Regions from separate parts of the Homo sapiens genome. Here region 1 is linked to region 2. A link means that fine-mapping ties the variant in region 2 to the expression of a gene that starts in the linked region. Tissue or cell type: tibial artery. Region 2 holds a variant in brackets; the other region holds the start of a gene. All regions are shown on one strand. Distances are between the middles of the regions.

What was found. PIP is the estimated chance that this variant, and not a neighbour inherited with it, causes the effect.
Region 1: it holds the start of VPS50, and the variant in region 2 is fine-mapped to the expression of VPS50 in tibial artery (GTEx, PIP above 0.99).

Annotation. Positions count from the first base shown.
Region 1 is chr7:93,230,798-93,233,488 of GRCh38, reverse strand. It overlaps VPS50 (VPS50 subunit of EARP/GARPII complex), which reads right to left and starts at 1,123. Exons shown (of 28, transcript NM_017667.4): 1 at 989-1,123. The coding sequence starts at 1,021. It also overlaps a transcript of HEPACAM2 not described here. RefSeq lists enhancers at 603-662, 903-952, 1,043-1,212, 1,353-1,422.
Region 2 is chr7:93,354,775-93,357,465 of GRCh38, reverse strand. It overlaps VPS50 (VPS50 subunit of EARP/GARPII complex), which reads right to left. Exons shown (of 28, transcript NM_017667.4): 27 at 1,386-1,575. Among named protein-coding and RNA genes, the nearest start is that of VPS50, 120 kb to the right of the region's middle. The variant A/G (reference allele first, on the strand shown) is at 1,526.

The sequences.
Region 1 (2,691 bases), 120 kb after region 2:
GAATTCTCAAATAAGAATGTGGAATTTGAGTTATTTTTGTAATCAACAAGAAAAAAACTCACAAATATACCTTTCACTAAACGATTACCTTCCACATTCTCCAAACTTCTAAAAGCCATGTTGATTTAAAACTCTAATCTTAACTATCTTTCATATTAAAATAATAAAATGACCAATTCTAGTGAAATATTAAAGCTGAAGTAAATAAAGGCAGCTAAAACAAAGTCATAATCAATAAGTACATAAAAGAAAATTTCTGCACTTCTTAAATGAAGCTGAGGCATTATTACGAGGTCCCTAACATTTATGAGACAGGTTACAAAATAGCCAAAGCTCTTATTCATGAATTTCCATTCTGGGGAAAAAAAAGAAAAGATCAGTATTTTGCCATGACAAAAATAAATTTTTTAAAGCAGAATTTCACAAAGAGTTTTCACATATATTAGCTTATCGATGACCCTCATAACAGAACTGTGAAGTAAAATGAACAAAAATAATTATTTTCACATCCAGAAACGTAAGCTACAAAGTTTGGGGACTTGCCCAAAATCCAAAAGCTACTAATTCTGTCTTCAAATCATCCGTTTTCAGTCTTTCCAGGTCACCTCTACTGCACAGACCACACCACCCTACCCAGGCTATCAGCTCGCATATGACAGACAGCCTGGATGCGGAAGACCTTGCAAGGAAGCTCGGGCTGTTCTGGAAAGACGGCAAAAAGAGGAGGAGGGGAGACAAAGATACCCTGATTCCTTCAATGACTTATTTTTAAACGAATATTTCTGGGAGGCTGGTACCCGCTGGAGCAGTGCTCCAACCCAGGCGGCCCAGGTGAGTTTTCTAGGGTATGCCCCGGCTTCCCAGTCCCCCTGACACCTGCCACCACCCATAACTTAGATCCCCGCCCGCCACTGGTTGGGGACAGAACATCTCGGCTCCTCTCACTTCCGAGATGAAGGAAGCCTTTGCTTCAGCCGCCGCGACTTACCTGTCGGGTCATGAGAGATTTGATTTTTTGCATATCGAAATCCTGAGGAGGGTACCCTGCCTCAAAGAGCTAACAAATCACACCGAGCCACTACACAGCTGGCCCTGACACTAGGAAGCCATAGTGGGTGGTCACGTGGAGGAGCCGACCCAGGGTATCCTGTCTTTCCCTGGGCCTGCTGGGAACTGTAGTCTTCTGGACGCCGGCGGTAGCAACGATGAACTAAAGTGGCCAACCCAGGGACTACATCTCCCAGCAAGCAAAAGAGCGGGTGCTTCAGTTAAGCCGGTAAATATTACTGCTCAGAGCGACCACTGCGATCGCCGGTCTTACAAAGGTGCTTGCACTAGGCAGTAGCTACTCTTCGGCGAGACGGAAACCTAAGTCACAGGTGACTAGGCGTTGAGCGAAAGATCAAACTCAGAGGAGACAATATATAAGCCAGATTGACGCGATGTCCCCTAGGAGTGTGAGGGAGGAAACCTCACCTGGTCTAGAGGGGCGGGGTGGGAGAACGAGAGACTGACGCGAAGGAGAAGGAACTCAAGAAAGGGCTGTCACTGAGGGGTAACCTGAGAACTCGAGACTACCCCGGGCGCGCTGGGTTTGGCCTGAGGAAAGGTGTGCTCTAGGTTGCCCAATAGGCGGCCCTCCAGGTTTAGGGCTGTTCTACCTCAGTCTTGGTATCCCCTGCAAAAGCTCTAAAATCGAAGGATTTTGACGCCCGCCTATTATTTTACCTCCGTACTCTAAAGCAGTGATGACGGGAAATACGACAATAACGAGTATACCTGTCACTTTAAAGTCCTCTTTTCAACTTTTGGCAGTTTAGTTAAATTGGGGAAAGGAACAGAAGTGTCTTTGGGGACACAATTTTAAAAGGACTTTACAATTATGAGAATATGAGAAGAAGAAGAAAAAGCAGCCCTAAAGCTAACAATGATAGCTAACACTTATCGAAAGCCGAGTACCTGTCAGGAACTGCTAATAGCTTTAAATATATGATTTCATTTATCCACACAAGAATCCTGTGGGTTCCCATTTTAAAGATGACGAAGCAGGTATGGCGAAATTAAGGAACTTGCCTAAGATTACTGCAGATGTGCAAGTAGAAACTGAAGGATTAATCGGTCATCAGATGTGTTAAGATTTTCATGTATTGTGCTGAAGAAAGTTCTAAAGCATGGCACCAATTTTTTTAAGTTTATTTTATTATAATGTTAACTTCTAAAAGTATGACACAGACCCATAATTTCAAAAATATTTCTTAGAATAAAAAAAGTTCAAGTGTGTCAACGTAATAAAAAATACTAGGTAAACAATAGTATGGGTGGTAGTCAGATATGGCAAAACTAATAAAGGTGATTTGCAAATGACTGAAGTTTGGGGGACACTAACAGAGGTTATTTCTGATTCTGAAATTCTATTTTCTCACCCCTTAGAGCCTCGTTTTATTAATTTTTACAAATGAGGTTGTAATATTTTAATATTTTATATAGGGCTTTGTAAGGATAAGTGAGATGATGTAGGTGAATGAAATGTATAAATTGTAAAGCACTATACAATTATGAGGTATTATTGGTTTTGATTCTGCCCAGTTCTCTACTCCAACAGAACCACCTTGTGCATACTTGTATCATCACTGCGTTCAGCAATTCCTTTGAAATTATATGTTTACCTATATGCTTCTCTGACTCTGTTAT
Region 2 (2,691 bases):
CACTCAGCATTCAGTGAGGATCCATCGTCAGTGATCGCTGGACTCATCATTGTGGGAAGTTTCCTTCAAAGACAGAAAAGAGTCCCTGCTGCTGCTGGGGAAATGTCACTGAATTACAAATATCAATCAGTTAAAGCTCTTTCAAAGTACTAAGTTAAAAAAAAATCAGTCTACTATATTAAAAGAGGAAATTCAAAAAACGGGCATCATTCTTGCATCGAATAGAGCTGTGCCTTTCCTCCTTGGCTACTTTGTATTCTTTCCCAAAACCCTTTCCTCAGTACCAACCCAGAAGTGTTTACAGCTTACTTTACTAAATGGATTCTAGCAACATTAAGCAGTCTATCTGCATCTAGGTTTAACATTTTGGTTATCAAATGTCAGTGGGGCTAAACGTGGTGAAGTTTTTCTCAATCTGGCTTTACTGGTCGAACTCATTAAAAATAACACATACATTCCTACTTTGCTTCTAAAGATCCGAAACTGAGTAAGAGTGGGGACATTCACACAAGATTCACGCCAATGTGAATGTTCTAGGCTAATGCATTTTATCTCTTTACAGTGTTAAGGCCAGAAAGGATGAGTCTGAGCAGGTATATACAAATAATTATTTTCTTACCCAAATGAAATAAAACTTGACTTAGCTTTTACCCATGACATTCATAGGTTAAGAAAATGTAAATCCTAGAGTTATCAAAGCAATGAGGATTTGGTGATAATTTTAACACATGCCATATACAGAAAAGCTTCCCATACCAAGCTCACTGAGTTGAACTGTGTCAAAAATTCGGCATCCTACGTAACAATAGTATTTTTCGTTATCTATATAGTCATACAAAAGAAAAATAATCAAATCTATATTAAAGGTAAAATCTAATGTAAGATGTAAGTTAAGTTTAGCCATTTAAATATTAATGTCTTCACTCATCACTAATACGTGTCAGTGTGTAGGATGTTACCATTTCATCGTTGAGGAGTACGAGAAGGTTTGTATGAGAAGGTTTAAGTTACATAATCGATTATGGCTTATGAATCATTTCATTGTTTCTGTATTCAATCTGTCTCAGTATTTATCAACTTCAGCCTTTTCCTATAACACAGTTGCAGGAAAAATATAGCTAATGTCTTGGCTTTGGCTGTATTTCTAGATCATTACAGTAACAGTTCACAAAGGGCTGAAAAAGATTTGATGAGTCAAAGGGCACTGCTTAGATACGGTGCCCTTAATCTGAATAAGGCAAAGAATTGACCTAAGTAGTTTGTATTAAAAAAGCAAATGTTTCTTTATATTTCACTCTCATGATTTTGAATTAAATAACACACCCAACAAGAACAGCACAAAGAAAAAGGAATAAAAACTTAATTAACTATTTTCCAGCTCTCACCCTGTGCTCTTTGATCCACCGTTCCATGTCATTCTCAGTTAGGTAATAAGCTTTAATATAAGTTTCTACAAATTCTTTATCAGGAATGGGTCTAATATCTGTTAGTTTTTCAAGTTTCATTAAAAACTGTTGAAAATCCA[A/G]TTGCATCAGGGCACGACCCTCATTACTGCATTTCTTGACATTGGCATATCTAAGATGCAAAACAATAAAAAAAAATACATTATAGGATAATTAGAAACAAAAAACTGTCAGGTATTTGAAGTTTTCTCTAACCTATATTTGGACAGATTCCCCAGAAATGAGAGGGTTATAGGAAATAGAGAACATAAGCCTTGAGTCAGAAAGACTGGGTTGTGTTTGTGCTCTGTCATTTTACCTATGCGGGCCTCAGTTTTCTCATTTGCAAAGAGATCCAATGAGTTCAAGTCTCTTTGTTGTTCTACAGACCACGGATCTCTGTATTCAATCAACATAATTGTCTGTAAGAAAGTTAAACTGGTATTCCAGTTAATCTGGCTGCCAAGAGTTACTTTATAAAAACTAAGCTTTGAATACTTCAAAGTAATCTTAGTTTTATAAAACTGTTCAATATTCAATGCAATGCAAAAGAAACAAATGAAATAATTCTCCCATGAACACTCTGAAAACATAAAGAAATGTGTAAGCATGTAAGCATAGAAAGTATATATATATTTTTCATGATAAAAAGCTTATAGACCTATTCTGATATTCTACACTACTGAAACAGTGTGTTTTAAGGTGGACTAAGTAATAAAGACAAATATACAAACCCTAACAATACAACACTTTATTGCTCATTAAGTCAATGTTTCATTTCTTCAATCAATCATACAGAACATGGAAAATTCAACTGTGGGAATGAGGTACTTACCTTAAGGAAAGTTGCAAGAAAATAAAAGCTTATTTTATTTAAAATGACCAAGCTTTTTTTTTTTTTTTTAAAAAAGAGTATTTTATACAGAAGTATTACATATATTATTCACATTTCGACTTAAACAAATTTATTTAAAATACTCTTCATTCGTGATTGCTGACACAGCCTTTTTATAATTTATAGCACTGCTGGTTTCAATACAGAGTGCCACGACTGTTGTCAGCTTGTCACTGTCATCTTCCCACTTTCTAATACATTATTTTGTATAACAAATGAGAACAAAAGAAAAATCAGACAAATGATAGTGTGAATATTCAACTGATGTGCAATTCTAGAGCACTGTACAGGGTCTTTGAAATAGCTGTTCGCTTCTCAGGGATATTTCAGATGTATTACTGATCCTTATTTGTA